Regions from separate parts of the Homo sapiens genome. Here region 1 is linked to region 2. Evidence: fine-mapped expression QTL. Tissue or cell type: blood mononuclear cells. Region 2 holds a variant in brackets; the other region holds the start of a gene. All regions are shown on one strand. Distances are between the middles of the regions.

Region 1 (5,128 bases), 55 kb before region 2:
GTGTGATAGTTATGAATATGGTCTTTATATGACAATATTGCTTGCAGTTTTATGAAGTTTGTATTACTTTGGTAACAATAAAAACATCAAAGATATGACTTTAAAGAAAGTTAAAACGTAGCTCACAATATTACTATCTGACAAATAATAAGCATATGGAAATATTTTTCTTTCTGCCCCACACCCCCCTTTCCTAATATAGGTGGCTTTGTTATAAACAAGACAGCATGATTCTACCATTTAGAACTCTTCTGGAAATAGAGACCCAAGGTGAAAAGTAAACATACAGTTACATTAAGGAGTGAGTAGGGAGAATACAGGTTTGAAAGCCAGAGGGTCTCAAGCTTTATGTGGGCCAGTCTAGAAAATGGGGGAGAAGAGGCTGGGCACAGTGTCTCATGCCTGTAATCCCAGCACTTTGGGAGGCCGAGGTGGGCAGATCACCTGAGGTCAGGAGTTCAAGACCAGCCTGGCCAACATGGTGAAACCCCATCTCTACTAAACAATACAAAAATTAGCCAGGCATGGTGGCGCGCACCTGTACTCCCAGCTACTCTGGAGGCTGAGGCAGGAGAATCACTTGAACCCAGGAGGCAGACGTTGCAATGAGCTGAGATCGTGCCATTGCACTCCAGCCTGGGCGACAGAGTAAGACCCTGACTCAAAAAAAAAAAAAAAAAAAAAAGTGAAAGAAAAAAAAGAAAAAGAAAATGGGGGAGAGGATGAATAAGGGTGGGAACTGGGGAGTGGAGGTTCCCAGGACAAGGGCAGCCAAAGGAGAAAGGAGGGAAGAGGTCCCTCTCACCTGATGGTCTTGTCCTTGTAGGCCCTGGTAAGGACAGACACCCAGCCAGGCGCTAGGGGGCATCAGGACAGGCTGGAAGTAAGACAGGAGCCAGGAGGAAATTGTTTACACTCTGAATGGGGGCTTGAAGAGGGGCACAAAACTGAGGGAAAAGGGGAGGGCCACATTGTGAACTTTCTAAGCTCCAGGCGCTTTTGCCTTTGTGAAGTACTTCCTGTCACAAAAATAAGTAAACAATAAATAGAAATCACATTTTACATCTGCATTGGTGTAAGATTAACATATTAATATGCCACCTAAAACTTCTTTTCTTCAGATTTTAGAATAAATTAAACATTTGTGAGTGCTCCTAAAAGTTTTATGGGCCCTTGGCATCGTACCTACTGTGCGTAATGGATAAGTCATCTGGGAAAGGGAGTGGGTACCGTTTGAAATAGAACCTTAAAAAGGTAAGTGGGCTAGGGTAATTTTTGAACAAGAGAGGCAGCCACAATTAACTTGGCTTTTCTGGGCCTCAGTTGATTGAGGCCTCAATTGAATGATTTCCCCAGGCCAGTAGAAATGAGCCCTGTAATCCCAGCACTTTGGGAGGCCAAGGAGGGCGGATAACTTGAGGTCAGGCATTCAAGACCAGCCTGGCCAACACGGTGAAAACCTGTCTCTACTAAAAATACAAAAATTAGCTGGGCTTGGTGGCACACACCTGTAGCCCCATCTACTCGGGAGGCTGAGGCAGGAGAATCGCTTGAACCCGGGAGGCGGAAGTTGCAGGGAGCTGAAATCGCACCACTGCACTCCACCCTGGGTGACAGAATGAGTCTGTCGGTCTCACAAGAACAAAACAAACAAAAAACAAAAACCACCACCAAAAACAAAACAAAACAAAAACAAAAACTCCCTCCGCAGGCAGGAGATGTAAACACGCCAGCTCCCCAGCCCCACCTGTGATACCTACTGGCCCACATCCCTATTAGGACTCCCTGGTTCTCCCCAGTTCCTGCAATAAAATACAGAGCAAAATAGTGTGAAATTGATTAAACTCTACTGTTATCACTTCTGCCATATGTGACTGGCTCAAAACTCAATGGATCTGACTCAGCAAAAGACAAAGTCAAAATTTAAAGTTACTGCCTCGGCATTTTGCAAATGTCCTAGAAAAAAATTCAACGTCCTAGAAAAAGGTGAAAGCTAGCAAGATACTCTCAACGCTGTAGGAGTTGAGAAAGGGAGATATGTAACCTAAAATCAATGCATAGGGCTGGGCTTCATTTGCACCCACAAATTCCCAGCATACGCCTGCTATTTTTATTTTTATCCTCATTAGGTTTTAAGCTTCCCTGCTGCTTTCAGAGTCTTAAGCCCAAGTCTAATTTTTTAACGGATGAAGAATGCTGTTTAAAGGTGCTCAAATACCTTGGTTGGATAGTATGCTCAATCCTTATACCTTGGTTGATTCAATTTTGACAAATGCTTCCATTTACTAGTTGGTGACCCAACTTTAATCTTACTAGTGGCTTGACTAGGGTAGCTAGTATGACTTTGAACGCTATATTGAATTTAATGTGGCAACTGTAATGAGCATTTTACGTTATCTCACAACAAAATGGGGTAGATATGGTTCTATTTTATAAGTGACTGGACTAAGGTTAACCTGTCGGTCACACAGCTTGTCGGCAACAGACTTGAGTTTGGATCCTAGTCTGTTTATTTCCAAAGCGCTGTTATTTATCGGGAGCAACCCTAGGAGAATGCCTAGACACACACCCAAAAAAGCAGCCAGGCAGCAGAACGCGGGGTCACACTTCGACCCCTCAGAGAACGATCGCTCCCAATCAATACTACGTGCTCAGGAGCTACAACTGAAGAAGCGTGATCACGGCCTTGGCATTTAGGGCAGGCACCAGCGCATCTATGGACCGCGCACAAATTCCGGGGATGCCGAATTTGGGGGATGCTAAGGGGAGAGAGTGGGTCTCTAGCAGCGATTGGGGGCTCAGGAGCAGTTAGTGACAAATGAGCACCCGAAAAGTGAAAAGGTGACAGCAGTCCGCAGGTGCATCTACTGGCGAGCCTTCTCCATCCCCGAACCCAACCCTCCCCCGGGAGAAGGTCGCGCCAGGAGAGAAGCCGCGCGGCGCTTAGGGCAAGGTGCAGAGGGCGGCGCGGCGGTGCAGCGAGAAAGACGCGGAGAGAGGGCGCTGCTCTGTGGCTCTGCAACCTTCCGCCAGCTCCCACGCTTTCCCCGCGCGTCCCCGGCGCCTCCTCGCTCCTCTTGCTTCCCCGCGACCCCTGCGTTCCCGTGCGCGCGCGCCCGCTTGCCTGTTTCCTGTCGCCGTCGTTGCCCGGGCCATGGCGACCTGCATTTGGCTGCGGAGCTGTGGGGCCCGGCGCCTCGGGTCGACGTTTCCAGGCTGCCGCCTCCGCCCCCGCGCCGGCGGCCTGGTCCCTGCCTCCGGGCCTGCGCCCGGCCCGGCCCAGCTCCGCTGCTACGCTGGGCGCCTGGCGGGCCTCTCTGCGGCGCTGCTGCGCACCGACAGCTTCGTGGGCGGCCGCTGGCTCCCGGCCGCCGCCACCTTCCCCGTGCAAGACCCGGCCAGCGGCGCCGCTCTGGGCATGGTAGCCGACTGCGGGGTGCGAGAGGCCCGCGCCGCCGTGCGCGCTGCCTACGAGGCTTTCTGCCGCTGGAGGGAGGTCTCCGCCAAGGTGAGAGAGCCCGGATGCAGGGGGCCAGAGCTGGCCGGGGACACGGCGGGGAGCAGAGGGGGCTTTACCCCAAAGTGACACCAGCCGCGTCGCCTCCCTCCTGTGCTCAGTTCCCCAGGGTATACAAAGTGGAAAGTCAGAGCAACAAGGGAGACGACCGACAAATAAGTTTGGAGCTTCCACTTTGAGCCGGGCACTAGGGACACGACCCCTGCCCTCAAGCCTCATCAAGTTATGCACTGCCCAGTAGGGGAGGCAGAACGTGAGCGCCTAATACAAGCGAGCTGCTTGTTATGGTCAACAAGCCTAACCGTGGAGGGGCGGGGAGAAAGGGGAGGGGTGTCAGGGAAGTGAGAGCACGTGTGGCCCTTCAGAGTAGCTGAAATATCTCCGCAGCTGCAGGGAGCCCACGCAGGAGGCTGCTTCAGCGGCCCTTGAGAAGGCTGGTAGTGAGGGCCCCTGGCCAGAATCATGGGATCGGAAACGGAGAGAACTGTAGAAAGATTTGGGTTTTGTGCAGGGGAAGAGAGAAATCCAGGAGCGTTCTCCAGGTTTTCACCCTAAATGGATAAATGCTGCTATTGGCCATTGCATAGAGAACACTGGAGAATTGGGAGTAAGGGGTGGAGGGCCATTAAATGGGAAGAATAGAGTAAGAAGAAAACTAAGAAAGTAGTTTCTTCCTTCTAATATTATATTATTAAACCTGGAGTCAACGCAGTGAAATTTTTTACCGTGTCCTTCAAAGCTCTCCCTCTGAAGGAATGCATCCAGCGATCCCTACGAGTACAAGAGAGTCTTAGCACTCATTCATCCATCAGCTGTTTACTGAGCACCTGCTGTATGCCCTGCACTGTTGGAGGTGCTTGGGATACCTCAGTTAAACGAAAGAAGGATTCTGCCCTTATGGAGCTCACATGGGGTGGAAGGGGAGCAGAAGAGAGATCAGAACTCTAAACAACAAACATAATATCTAAGCAAATAAGTATGTGAGAGATGCTGAGTGCAATATGGAAAAAAGGTAGAAGCAGGAGAGGATCCGGGCCAGAGGGAAGGGGCAAGATGCAGCATCAACAGTGTGACCAGGCATATTCCTCTGCTAGGGCTGCCATAGCAAAGTACCACAGACTGGGTGGCCTGAACAACAGACATTTCTCATTTTACCGCTCTGGAGGGTAGAAATCCCAGATCGAGGTGTTGTCAGAGTTGGTTTCTTCTAAGGCCTCTCATTGGCTTGCAGAGAGCTCAGCTTTTGTCTTTGTATCTCATCAGACCTCAATTTTAGACTCATGGAGTCTGAGATGTCTGTTCACGCCCAAGTGAGGATGTAAAGTAAGCAGTTGGTTATATGAATGAATCTTCCCTGTGTGTCTCCACATGGTCTTTCCTCTGTGTGTATATGTGTCCTAATCTCTTCTTCTTTTAAAAACAGGAGTCAGATTGGATTGGGGCCCACCAGAATGACCTCATCATAACTTAATTCCCTTTTTAAAGACCCTATTTCCAAATGCACTCACATTCTGAGATACTGGGGGGTTAGGACTTCGACATGTCAATTTTGCCAGGAGCACCATTCAGCCCGTAACATCAGGGTAGGTCTCATTGAGGACATGAGATACA
Region 2 (5,206 bases):
GTAAACTGGGGATCCGTTTACATTAGAGAACTATACTGCTAAACAACACCGAGAGGAGTCAGTGTAGTTTTTCTTAGAGAAAGAAAAGATAATGTTACAATGCTACCTTCAACCTGCACGGCATTAAGCTCCTCCTCCCCTTTCTATTGCCTCAGTCCTTAGAATACGATTCTTCCTTAGCTCTTGAATGGCCAACAGCTGCTTTCTTGAGAGAGATGAAAACTGCCATTGACATAGCACAGAATTAAAAACCAGGAGGGCTTGGCACTGTGCGAGTGTTGCCGTCAGCACAGAAAGCTTGCTACATGCAAGACTCCGTACCTCCACAGATGGCCCGTGCCTCTTAGACAAGCTATTTTAACATACACAGCCATCTGACTGCAGGTCCTACAAGAGAAACCGTGTTTAGAATGCTGTTCCTTAGAGGCAATCACAGCAGCTAAGACAGAAATCATCCCTTTTTAAAACCTTGTTTCATTCACCTTCTCTAAGGTTCTACAGATAGAAATCGTTGTTCATCTTTAATATGAGATTGTGCCAGCTACAAAAACTCAAAACTCTTTTAAGTATATACCTTAGAGTTTTACCCAGCCTTTATTTCTATTAACAAGCATCTCAGTTAAAAGAGCAAAGTTTTTGTTTTGTGCCTTCAAAAACCGGTCTTTTAGTACGTGGGGATACACATCTAACCCACTGGGGAAGAAGGTCAATGAACTATTCTAAAAGAGTGGGTTTTGTGCTGTAACTCCCACTGACTGGTCTTGGATTCAAGGGGTCCTTCCACTTTACAATGAACTGCGCCATTATCTGTCCTTTGAGCAATAACTGAAGGAAGCTCCATTTCTGATGGAACCATTCATGGAAACCTTTGGATTCCCTCTCTCCATCTTTTCTCGGCTGAAGATTGTGTCCTGGTCACTGTCAAACTCAGACTCGGATACCATCAGGCTGGAGTTGTGCTCTGTGCTTCGGTGCTTGATACCTAGAGAGAAGCACAGAAGCATCTGAGGAGGAACGCCGTGATTCACTTCCAGCTGTCAGTCGTTGTGGTTGCAGGTCCTGTGATGGGCACGGAGTGGTGCTCTCCGCCCCTTGAAAGCAATCACTCAAAACAGCAGGCGGTTTGGGTTTCCTAGCAAGTAACTGCAGGGGCTTTGATGCCTCACCCGAGCTTCTGTCCCAGCTTTGACACTCGCCAGATGCTTGAGCCTGGGCAAGATACCGAACCTCTCTGAGCTTTCAGTCTCCTCCTCTATTCAACTGGAAGATAACAAAGCATCTACCCCATGAGTTTATGCTGAGGATTAAGTGAAATAGTGCATGTAAAGCTCTCTTGGCCCAGCCTTTAGTACATTGTAAGCATCCAACAAACGAAAGCTTCTGTGATTTTACCATTTGGTTAAAATATTTTTGGTAGAATATTTGATTTCAGGGGGTCAACCTAAGATACAGAACAGGTATAAGATTCAATTCCTACTCTCAAAGGATTTATGGTGTCTAGCTAGGGGTTTAAGACATAGACTTGGCTGGGCATGGTGGCTCACGCCTATAATCCCAGCCCTTTGGGAGGCTGAGGTGGGAGGATCACTTGAGGCCAGGAGTTCGAGGGTACAGTGAACTATGATCGTGTTGCTATGCTCTAGCCCAGGTGACAGAGCAAGACCCTGTCTCGGGAAAAAAAACAAAAACAAGACATAAAAGGCATAGACTCATGAGAAGATGGCTCATAACAGGTTAGATGTTTTTTAAATTGTATATGAATTAGGAGATAAGCACATATACTTATGGCAGGGGTTGCTTCAGTAATGTTTCCCATAGGGTGATGTTGCAGAACTTTCTCCTTAGTTCAGCTAAAACCAGGCTCTTGTCACACTACCAGGAAAGATTAGGCTCACGGAAACATAGAGGGGTGAGAAAAATGGAATTTATTGGTCAAAAAGGAAACAAAAACTCTCAGCAAATAGAGAGGGGGTCTTGCCAACAACCTCCTGCCTCACAGATTGAATCCCAGGTTACCACACAGAAACTGAAGAGGCCAGGCTCCTCCCCACTGCAAATGACACGAACTTCCTGTGGCTCCATCCTCTTTCCCCAGTGCGCAGGTGGACATTACTTAGGGAGAATCAGCTGGGAAAGGGCAGGGCCTTCACTGGGGACCAGCAGTCCAGTTTTTCAGCCTTCAGGCTGTTTTAGGCTTGGAGGTGGGGTTTCGCCAGGGACTCTTGGCTGTCTCCTGTCTCTATCAGTGAGATTTGAAGAAGAGATTTTAGACAAGAGGACGGGGAAGGTCATGGAGTATGCAGAAGCATCCGGGAATATTTAGAAAAAAACTGGTTTGTTTGGAGCAAATGATTCATGTAGGAAATAATGAAGGAGAGAGGCCGGAGAAAGGCAGGGACCTCACAGAAAAGCACATGAATACAAAGTAAACCATGAAGTTTGGATTTTATCCTAAAAGCAGAGAAATGACACTATTAAAATGTTGTTCTGAGACATTAATAAAACCACAGTGTGCAGGATGGAAGACGGACAGTAGACATAGAGGTTGCTGTGGTCTGAATGTT[T/G]GCACCCCCACAAATTCATGTGTTGAAATCTAATGCCTAAATGGTGGTACTAAGAGGTGGGGCATTTGGGTGGTGATCGAATGGGATTAGTGCTCACATAAAAGAGGCACCAGAGGCCAGGTGTGGTGGCCCACACCTGTAATCTCAGCACTTTGGGAGGCCGAGGCGGGTGGATCACTTGACGTCAGGAGTTCGAGACCAGCCTGGCTGACATGGAGAAACCCTGTCTCTACTAAAAATACAAAAAAGATTAGCTGGGCATGGTGGACAGGTGCCTGTAATCCCAACTACTTGGGAGGCTAAGGCATGAGAATTGCTTGAACCTGGGAGGCAGAGGTTGCAGTGAGCTGAGATTGCACCACTGCATTCCAGTCTGGGGGATAGAGCAAGACTCTGTCTCCAAAAAAAAAAAAAAAAAAAGAGGCACCAGAGGCTGCCTTGCCCTTTGCACCATGTGAGGATGCAGTGAGGAGGCACCAACTATGAGGAAGCGGCCCTGCCCAGATGTTGAATTTGCCTTCCCAGCCTCCAGAACTGTGGGTAATAAATATCTGTTGTTCATAAGCCTCCTCTTCTGTGGCATTTTGTTAGAGCAGCCCAAACAGACCAAGGCAGAGGCAGTGCAACATAGAGGAAGAGCCCAGCCTCCACCCCACCTTCAGCACTCACCAGCTATGTTACTTGGGCAAGTTGCTAAACTTTCCTTTGCCTCAGTTTCCTCATGTGTAAAATGGGGATAATCATTGCACATACCTCGTACCGCTATGGGCAGGATTAGAATTCAATGGGTAAAGTACTTGAGATGTACCTAGTACATATTCAACATTAAATACCTGTTTATTATTACTATTAGTTCACGGGTGAAACTGTAAGGACCTGAACTGGGGTGGTGATGGTAATGACGAGGAAAGAGGGCAAGAGTCTAGCAAGTGCGGGTGTCTGGAGTGGGGGGCGGTGTGTGTGGAGCACCAGCGACTGAGGTTTCAAACTGGGGCAGTGAGAATGGGGGTTCTATGAATAGAAACAGGAATGTCAGAAGGATGAGTGTATTTTAAGACAAAGATGGGTGAGATAATGCAACCTAAAGCACGTTGAGCTCTTAGGTAAACGTCACTATAATACTTCTGATATTATGCAATGCAAATGGTGAGCACTCAATGTATGCCACTATTTGTTCTTCCTGTGAGGCTCTTCCTGCCAAAGCCCTATTAGCTACACTCTCTGTACACGATCAGTCATTCTGACCTGAGTGTTCCTACCCGGCATCGTCCATGCACTGATAGAACTCCTTGCACTCCAGTATAATTACCCTCCCTCAGGCTGTGAGCTCCTGTAAAGGCAGGCTCTGTGCTTCCTCCTCTCCCAGTCTCCAGGGCCTAACCCGGTGCCTGTGCACAAGGTAGGCATTCAACACTCACTGTGAACAATGTTTTGCACCTCACAACTCTGAAAAAGATTATATCTTCCATAAAAATTATCTTAGTCATAAGCCCAGAATTATGGAAAATCTATAGAATCGGTGTTTAGCAGCCTCAGAGGGCCAGAGAAGTTTCATTAAGTATGCAACAGTTAATAAACGAGAATGAAAAAGTTAACCGAGGTGGGCAACAGGTGCTCCTAAGCATAGGGATCAATACACTTTGTGAAGAAAGTCAATTTTCTGTAAAGCCTTTGTGTCCATCTTTATCAATGGCTAATTAGATAACGCAGCTGCTGAAAAATGTTAGGCTTTAAAGTCCAAATGTCCTCTTGCTGCATTTCTGTCCTAGCAGACCTAAAGGGAACAGCGTTCAGAGCTGAGCTGTGGGAGTGTCTTCAACTGCCCCCACCCTCCACCCGCGAGTAGAAAAAAAAGCAGGTGCTGGGGACATCTCTGTTTAAAAAGCAGTCTTTGCCCTGTGGTCATTGGTAGGTGCCCAGCTGATAACATTTCATATCCCTCATCCATTAATGCCTCAAAGTATTACACCAAAATTTCATTAAATTTATAATGAACCCACTGCCTTCTGCCCCCACCCCCGCATTAGCATATCCTCAGGATTGATGAAGGTTATTTTTCTTTTTCTTTCTTGAGACAGAGTCTCAGTCTGTAGCCCAAGCTGTAGTGCAGAGGTGTGATCTCAGCTCACTGCAACCTCCACCTCCCAGTCTCAAGCTATTCTTCTGCCTCAGCCTCCCGAATAGCTGGGACTACAGGCGCACACCACCACGCCCGGCTAATTTTTTTTTTTTTTGTATTTTTTAGTAGAGATGGTGTCACCATGTTGCCCAGGGTGGTCTCGAACTACTGAGCTCAGGCGCCTTGGCCTAAGTGCTAGGATTACAGGCATGAGCCACTGGGCCCGGCCTGAAGGTTGTTTTTCATCACAGAATCCCAGCCTCACTCTTCCTTCCCAATTAAAGTGCTGACTCCAGCAAATCGTTCTCCCTCTATCCAAGTTAGCCCTCAGGCCTACCTAGGTTAAATCATATAAAGGTGCCAGGCAGTCATTCTGCAGACTGTCTTACCATATTTGGGCCTCAGTTCCATTCTTTCCTGTTCATCCATGTTATCCAGGATGGTGTACTTTGTTTTTTTCCTGATTTTAGTCCTTTTTTGTCTGAAAGGAACAATGAAAAGCTCAACTCAGATCTTTAGAAAG

The links. PIP is the estimated chance that this variant, and not a neighbour inherited with it, causes the effect.
Region 1: ALDH5A1 starts here. The variant in region 2 is fine-mapped to the expression of ALDH5A1 in blood mononuclear cells (TOPMed, PIP above 0.99).

The regions. Positions count from the first base shown.
Region 1 is chr6:24,491,843-24,496,970 of GRCh38, forward strand. ALDH5A1 (aldehyde dehydrogenase 5 family member A1) reads left to right here and starts at 3,127. Exons shown (of 10, transcript NM_001080.3): 1 at 3,127-3,508. The coding sequence starts at 3,155. It also overlaps a transcript of GPLD1 not described here. RefSeq lists a silencer at 3,133-3,522.
Region 2 is chr6:24,546,362-24,551,567 of GRCh38, forward strand. It overlaps KIAA0319, which reads right to left. Exons shown (of 21, transcript NM_014809.4): 20 at 5,073-5,164; 21 at 1-982. The coding sequence ends at 804. Among named protein-coding and RNA genes, the nearest start is that of ALDH5A1, 54 kb to the left of the region's middle. RefSeq lists an enhancer at 870-1,392. The variant T/G (reference allele first, on the strand shown) is at 2,565.